2 separate regions of the Homo sapiens genome follow, and region 2 is linked to region 1. The links come from fine-mapping of genetic effects on gene expression. A gene starts in region 1. The other region holds a variant in brackets. All regions are shown on one strand. Distances are between the middles of the regions.

Evidence for each region. PIP is the estimated chance that this variant, and not a neighbour inherited with it, causes the effect. A credible set is the group of variants that fine-mapping cannot tell apart.
Region 2: its variant is the best candidate, but not a certain one, in a credible set for the expression of USP4 in sigmoid colon (GTEx, PIP 0.56).

The regions. Positions count from the first base shown.
Region 1 is chr3:49,337,697-49,341,696 of GRCh38, forward strand. It overlaps USP4 (ubiquitin specific peptidase 4), which reads right to left and starts at 2,357. Exons shown (of 22, transcript NM_003363.4): 1 at 2,228-2,357. The coding sequence starts at 2,328. RefSeq lists a silencer at 2,298-2,487 and enhancers at 2,528-3,027, 2,658-2,827, 2,918-2,977.
Region 2 is chr3:49,365,843-49,370,357 of GRCh38, forward strand. RHOA (ras homolog family member A) reads right to left here. Exons shown (of 5, transcript NM_001664.4): 3 at 2,586-2,706. Among named protein-coding and RNA genes, the nearest start is that of GPX1, 9.7 kb to the left of the region's middle. The variant A/T (reference allele first, on the strand shown) is at 2,073.

The DNA.
Region 1 (4,000 bases):
AAAGTGCTGGGATTACAGGCATGAGCCACTGCACCAGACCTGTTTATATTTTTAAAGTATCACTGTGCTGGCCGGGAGCGGTGGCTCACGCCTGTAATCCCAGCACTTTGGGAGGCTGAGTCAGGTGGATCACGAGGTCAGGAGATCGAGACCATCCTGGCCAACATGGTGAAACCCTGTCTCTACTAAAAATACAAACATTAGCGGGGCATGGTGGTGCATGCCTATAATCCCAGCTACTCGGGAGGCTGAAGCAGGAGAATCGCTTGAACCCGGGAGGCAGAGATTGCAGTGAGCCGAGATCGCGCCACTGCACTCCAGCCTGGTGATGCAGCGAGACTTCGTCTCAAAAAAAAAAAAAAAAAAAAAAAAAAAAAGTATCTCTATGCTGTTTTACAATTAAAACAATCTCTGTGGAGCAACAAAGCATCAACAATTATATTGGTGCATCCTTAAAATTTTATAACCAACAAATGTGAGAGGAGGTCAGGCAGCTTCCCAGAGGTCACAAGGATCCATAAACACATCCATCTCTAAAATGCTATTTTTCTTCCAAATCCCTTGAGCAATACCTTCCATACAATTTTACTGTATGATTTTAGTCTATCTTAAACTTCCTCTACTTCTGCTGAGTATTCTTTATGAACCCTATAGAGGTTAACTTAAAAAGTACCTCTGCTAGGCCGGGCGCAGTAGCTTCCGCCTGTAATCCCAGCACTTTGGGAGGCCACAGCGGGCGATCACCTGAGATCTGGAATTCGAGACCAGCCTGACCAAAATGGAGAAACCCCGTCTCTACTAAAAATACAAAAAAAATTAGCCGGCCGTGGTGGCGCATGCCTGTAATCCTAGCTACTGGGGAGGCTGAGGCAGGAGAATCGCTTGAACATGGGAGGGGGAGGTTGCCGTGACCCGAGATCGCGCCATTGCCCTCCAGCATGGGCAACAAGAGCGAAATTCCTTCTCAAAAAAAAAAAAAAAAAGAAAAGAAAAGAAAAGAAAACACAAAAAAAGTACCTCTGTTTACCCTGCCTTTCACAAACTGGTTAGCTCAAGGTGAATACATAAGCTGTTATCTGTACTCCTCCTAACCCCAATTTTTCTATTCTCCTGCTCAATTCCTCGGCAGATCATCACCACAATGATTTCTTAAAGATAGGTAACACTCGGGCCGAGCACGGTGGCTCCCACCTGTAATCCCAGCACTTTGGGAGGCCGAGGCGGGTGGATCATAAGGTCAAGAGTTTGAGACCAGCCTACCCAACATGGTGAAACCCGGTCTCTACTAAAAATACAAAAAATTAGCTGGGTGTGGTGGCGTGAGCCTGTAATCCCAGCTACTCGGGAGGCTGAGGCAGGAGAATCGCTTGAACCCGGGAGGCGGAGGTTGCCGTGAGCCAAGATCACGCCACTGCACTCCAGCTTGGGCAACAAGAGTGAAACTCCATCTCAAAACAAAACAAAACAAACAAGATGGGTAACAATCATACTCGATGCAAAGTCTAGCCTTAGTTTTTCTACTCCTACACAATTACACCACCCAGGAATCTCTCCAGTAGTACAAAGTATTGTCCCCTCTACTAAACAATCTATTAAGATGCCTAATAACTCAGCCTGGGTCTTCTAAATTCTGGACCCTTCATCTTCTATCTAGCTCCAGGACCTAGGCTATCCTCCTCTCCCACTCCAAGACACTGCTGCCGCAAATATTTTTGACACTTGCTACCAAAATAATCGGGGTTCTCAGACATTTGTTCAGCTTCTGACCTTGACATCTGTTGGCAGTTTACAAGTTACAAAGTATCTACTTCTGATTTTCCCCTCAACCCACTGAGGTCGGTGAGCCAAATATTGCTATCCTGGTTTTAACAGTGAGGAATCCAGGTCTGTGACACCTTCGCCCAAGGTCACACGGCGAGTCCTCATGGTAAAGGGCTCTCCCCACCCTTAGGGTCCCCACCAACCTTCCCCTTCTCCACATCCCTCCTCCTGGCCCCCGCCGGGCCCGCCCCCTAGGGCTCCAAATGAACTGAGACGACACTCAGGCCCCGCCTGCGCTTTCCCAGAGCTGATCCTGGAGTTATTCTCCTGAGGGGCAGGTGTCAGGCTACTCTTCCAGGGTCACTACATACCATCCCCGCCCAGCCCCTACTCTAGCCGAGAAAAAGGAGGCCCCTTTTTCTCGGCCCCTGGTTCTGCATAGAGGAAGAGCGAGCCGGGAGCTCACCACTGCGCCCCGCGTTGGAGTGTGGTCCTCATTAAGGGTCCAAGCTCGGACTTCTGAGTCTCCGCATCCGGTCGCTCACGGCAGCCTCCACCTTCCGCCATCTCCTCCGCGGCCCCGGCCCAGCCGGCCCGGACATCCGCCCCGCGCGCGGCGTGCTATAGACCGCGCCCACGCACGCACGCTCGCGTGCCCGCCCCTGCCCCACCTCGAGCCGCGGCCTTCGGCTCCTGCAGCCGCTGTCTTTTCTCCCCTCCGCTCTCGCGCCACCTAGCTCACCGGCGAACAGTGGAGCGGAAAGGCACACGCGAGAGGGGTGGGCGGGGAGCAGCAGCTGCTACTTCCTCCCGCCCTGCCGCCCGCTACGCGGCCTTCGGGCGCCCCTTCCTCTGCTCAGGATGGCGCTACACTTCGAAGCTCTGTTCAGCCCGCCGATCTCAGGGAGTTAGGCAGCAAGCCCACGACCCATCGGGCACCCCAGCCTGGCCTTCGAGGTTATCGTGGTCCTAAATAAATGCAGGCCAGGTGCGAGAAGCCCGGTAGTTAGGTCTGCTCATTCTCACCCCTGCAATTCCGCTTTCAGCTGGAGGCCTTAGGCGAGTCAGCTGCCCAAACGTGGGATCGGGGCTCCTGCTCCAGCGGCCCTACAGGGATTTCGGGAAGTACCATGTGCACCAGCGCCTTGGGACCAAGACTCAATGGTGTGTTGTAGTCATTAACAGTCGCCTTAAACAGTCGACGCCAGAGCCACCTGGCCCACCGCAGAATTCCGTCAGCTCTTCATACTGAGCTACTTGCCAAGCAGCCACAGAGGGGCGATAGCAACAGGGGAAGGAGAGGTACTCCACATTAGTTACCCAGGCGTGTACTTAGTTCCTGGAACAAGATACAACGTCCTGAACACTATGTTTTCCAGTCGCCCCGCTCACACACACAACCCTCCTCTTGGAGGGAGAAGTAAACCCAGAGGAAAGAGGAAGTCAGGCAGTTGGTCTAGATGCGTCTCCATACACTTGTCTAACAGTCCTTGTCCTCAGAGAAAAATAAGACCTAGTTCCTGCCCTCATAGAATCTAGTAGAAAAGAAGAGATGTTACAGAAATAACCTCAATGCCTAGCAGTATGTGGTAAGTGCCATTAAAGTGTGTGAACCAGGCCGGGCGCGGTGGTTCAAGCCTGTCGTCCCAGCACTTTGGGAGGCTGAGGCGGAAGGATAGGTTCAGCCCAGGAGTTAGAGACCAACCTCGGCAACATAGCGAAATCCCGTCTCTACAAAAAAATACAAAAAATAGCCGGGCAGTGGCTCGCGTCTGTGGTCCCAGGTACTTGGGAGGCTGAGGTAGGAAGATCCCTTGAGCCCAGGAGGTCGAGGTTGCAGTGAGTCGAGATGGCGCCACTGCACTTGAGACTGGACGGCAAAGTGAGACCCTGTCTCAAAAAAAAAAAAATAAATACAAATAAAGGGTGTGAACCGGCCGGGCGCGGTGGCTCACACCTGTAATCCCAGCACTTTGGGAGGCCGAGGCAGGAGGATCACCTGAGGTCGGGCATTCGAGACCAGCCTGACCAACGTGGAGACCGAAATGTCTTAAAAAAAAAAAAAAAAAAAGACCGGGCGTCCGGCGCGGTGGTTCATGTTTGTAATCCTAGGACTTTGGGAGGCCGAGGCGGGCAGATCACGAGGTTAGGAGTTCGAGACCAGCGTGGCTAATATGGTGAAACCCCTTCTCTACTAAAAATACAAAAAAAAAAAAAAAAATTAGCCGTTAGTGGTGGC
Region 2 (4,515 bases), 28 kb after region 1:
AGCCTCCCGAAGTGCTGGGATTACAGGCGTGAGCCACCATGCCCGGCCTAAAAAATATAAAAATTAACCAAGCGCAGCAGTGTGTGCCTGTAGTACCAACTACTGGGTGGGGACTGAGATGGGAGGATTGTTTGAGCCCAGGAGGTCGAGGCAGCAGTAAACTGAATCTGCAACTGCACTCAAGACTGGGCAAGAAAGCGAGACCCTGTCTCAAAAAGAAAAAAGTGAGACTGAAGAGACAAAATGTTTTGCTCTGGAGGCAGTTTTTTCCCTCAAGAATTATACACTAGATAACGAGGGCAAAGGCACACAGTCCTTCTCATTCCAATAGGATCTAGGTGAAGTTATTTATGTGTGTATCTGATAGGAGAGTGTCAACTAGCTCAAATTTTCTCTGTGGCCTAAAGCTCTGCCCAGCCTCCAGGGCCTTCCAGCAGCTTCACAAAAGGAAGTCATATTAGTTTGAAAACCAAAACTAGGCTGGGTGTGGTGGCTCACACCTGTAATCCCAGCACTTTGGGAGGCCAAGGTGAGTGGATCACCAGAGGTCAGAAGTTTGAGAGAAGCCTGGCCAACACGGAGAAACCCGGTCTCTACTAAAAATACAAAAATCACCCAGGCGTGGGGGCGTATGCCTGTAGTCCAAGCTACTTGGGAGGCTGAGACAGGAGATTTGCTTGAACCTGGAAGGCGGAGGTTGCAGTGAGCCAAGATTGTGCCACTCAACTCCAGCCTGGGCAACAGAGCGAGACCCCGCCTCTAAATCAATCAATCAATCATAACTGCTGAAAATGATCTAAGTGAACCAACGGCATGGAATACGTGCTCTTTCTCTGTCCTGGGACATACTGCACAGAGGACTCAATCTTAGCTCAGCTCCTTGGGCCAGCATGACCTTAAACAAGTGGCTCAATATCTTGGAGCAACCCCAGTTATCATCATTAAGGTAGGGACAACCATAACAACACAATCACTCTAACACTAACTATCCAGGCAACCCGAGGCCACAAGCAGACCCTCAAAGGCTGTTTGTGGTAATGACGACAACATCCTTGACCCACCTGCTGCCCTGTCATGACAGGGAGGGCTGCAGCACAAGTTTATTAATAGATACCTCATCATCTTCAGCACAAACCTAAAGCAAGTTTTTTCAAGCCTGGTTTCACAGAATGTCAGGTTAGCATTCTTCAGTCTTTTTCTAAAGAATACTGACTTCTGGGCCAGGCGCAGTGGCTCACGCCTGTAATCCCAGCACTTTGGGAGGCCGAGGCAGGCGGATCACGAGGTCAGGAGATCAAGATCATCCTGGCTAACGTGGTGAAATCCCATCTCTACTAAAAAATACAAAAAATTAGCCGGGCGTGGTGGTGGCCACCTGTAGTCCCAGCTACTTGGGTGGCTGAGGCAGGAGAATGGCATCAACCCAGGAGGCAGAGCTTGCAGTGAGCTGAGATCAAGCTGCTGCAATCCAGCCTGGGAGACAGAGCAAGACTCCCTCTCAAAAAAAAAAAAAAAAAAAAAAAAGAATACTGACTTACTGACTTCTGAATTATGTGGCTGTGTTTAGGCTAATGAAATGATCACATTCAAGCTTCTATCAGCTAAGACACTTCAGAAAAAGGCTAAGACAGGGCAACCAAAAAAAAGAAAGTCTTTCCCCAAAAGAGATGGCTTTACATTTGGAACTCATCTAGTTTGCTCATCTTTTTTTTTGGGAGATGGAGTCTGCAGTACAGTGGCATGATCTTGGCTCACTGCAACTTCTGCTTCCCAGGCTCAAGTGATTCTCCTGCCTCAGCCCCTGGAATAGCTGGGATTACAAGTGCACGCCACCACACCCAGCTAATTTTTGTATTTTAGTAGAGACAAGGGGTTCACCATGTTGCCTAGGCTGGTCTCAAACTCCTGACCTCAGGTGATCTGCCAGCCTCGGCCTCCCAAAGTGCTAGGATTACAGGTGTCAGCCGCCGCACCAGCCTTAGTTTACTCATCTTTGTATCTGGAATTCATCTAGTTTACAAGGCAGTTAGATTTTTAAATAACATTTAATATTATTTAGTAATAATAATAAT[A/T]ATTATTATTTTTGAGATAGAGTCTTGCTCTGTTGCTCAGTCTGGAATGCAGTGCCATAATCTCGGCTCACTGCAATCTCCACCTACCAGGTTCAAACGATTCTCCTGCCTCAGCCTCCCAAGTACCTGGGACTACAGGCGTGCACCACCATGCCTGGCTAATTTTTTTGTACTTTTAGTAAAGACGGGGTTTCACCATGTTGGCCAGGCTGGTCTTGAACTCCTGACCCTCAGGTGATCCACCCGTCTGGACCTCCCAAAGCGCAGGGATTATAGGTGTCAGGCACCGTGCCCTGCCTAGGTGGATACATTTTAAATACAGTACCCATGGGAGACCTAGGCTGAAAGGGACCCAAGGCCCACGCTCTACAATCCCAAACTCCAGGACTCCGGCCACTGACGATGATTGCTTCTCTGAAGTTCATGTCTGCTTTTCAGCCACTTGATGCCCAGAAACCAGATGCCAACTAGCTACACAGGCAGTGACAAATATCAGGGTGCAGGGCCACTCACCTAAACTATCAGGGCTGTCGATGGAAAAACACATCAGTATAACATCGGTATCTGGGTAGGAGAGGGGCCTCAGGCGATCATAATCTTCCTGCCCAGCTGTGTCCCACAAAGCCAACTCTACCTGTAATGGGAAAAACAACCACAAGAGTGCAAGGTTAATCCCCCCACCCACTTTTAGAAAAAGTGACACTTACCATAGTACATTGAAATGGCAGACCATTGAAATGGCAGACGGTCTAAAACAGTAAAACACAGGAGTATTTACATTTTTTCTTTTTTCTTTTTTTTTTTTTTTTTTGAGATGTAGTCTTGCTCTGTCGCCCAGGCTAGAGTGCAGTGGCGCGATCTCTGCTCCCTGCAAGCTCCGTCTCCCGGGTTCACACCATTCTCCTGCCTTGGCCTCCCAAGTAGCTGGGACTACAGGTGCCCGCCATCACACCCGGCTAATTTTTTGTATTTTTAGTAGAGACGGGGTTTCACTGTGTTAGCCAGGATGGTCTGGATCTCCTGACCTCATGATCCGTCCGCCTCGGCCTCCCAAAGTGTTGGGATTGCAGGCGTGACCCACCGCGCCTGGCCTTTTTTTTTTTTTTTTTTTTTTTTTTTTTTTTTGTTGAGACGGAGTCTTACTCTGTTGCTCAGACTGGAGTTCAGTGGCAAGATCTTGGCTCACTGCAAGCTCTGCCCCCGGGTTCATGCCATTCTCCTGCCTCAGCCTCCTGAGCAGCTGGGACTACAGGCGCCCGCCACCACGCTTGGCTAATTTTTCGTACTTTTAGTAGAGACGGGGTTTCACCATGTTAGCCAGGATGGTCTTGATCTCCTGACCTCGTGATCCGCCTGCCTCGGCCTCCCAAAGTGCTGGGATTACAGGCATGAGCCACCACACCCGGCCGAGTATTCACTTTTATGAGCATCAAGCTCAAATGAGAGTATATTTAAATTATTTTAGGTTGAAATTTCTCAAAATTGAAAATCTGAGAACCCACCTCTACAAAAACACCTTAAAAATTAGCTGAGTGTGGCCAGGCGCGGTGGCTCATGCCTGTAATCCTAGCACTTTGGGAGGCTGAGGCGGGCTGACTGCCTGAGCTCAGGAGTTCGAGACCAGCCTGGGCAACATGGTGAAACCCCGTCCCTACTAAAATACGAAAGAAATTAGCCAGGCACGGCAGCGTGCGCCTGTAGTCCCAGCTACTGGAGAGGCTAAGGCAGGTGAATTGCTTGAACTCGAGAGGCAAAGGTTGCAGTGAGCCAAGATCGTGCCACTGCACTCCAGCACTCCAGCATGGGCGACAAAGCGAGCCTCCATCTCTAAAAAAAAAAAAAATAAATAAAATAAAACTTAGCTGAGTGTGGGCTGGGTGCGGTGGCTCACGCCTGTAATCCCAGCACTTTGGGAGGCCAAGGCGGGCGGATCACCTGAAGTCGGAAGTTCGAGACTAGCCTGACAAATGTGGAGAAACCCCATCTCTACTGAAAATACAAAATTAGCTGGGCGTGGTGAAGCATGCCTGTAATCCCAGCTACTCAGGAGGCTGAGGCAGGAGAATCGCTTGAACCCAGGAGGCGGAGGTTGCAATGAGTGGAGGTTGCAATGAGCTGAGATTGCACCACTGCACTCCAGCCTGGCCAACAAGAGCGAAACTCCATTTAAAAAAAAAAAAAAATTAGCTGACTGTGGTGGTGCACGCCTGTAGTCCCAGCTACTTGGGAGACTGAGGTGGGAGGACTGCTTGAGCCCGGGAGGCGGAGGTTGCAGTAAGCAGAGATTGTGCCACTGCACTGCAGCCTAGGCAGTGAGACCTTGACTCAATTAGGAAAAAAACAAAAAAACAAAACAGATACTAGAACTGAACCAAGTGGCATAATTCAAAATGTCAAGTCAAAAATAACTCTGTAGCTTATAAAAGTGTTTAATTATAAATAA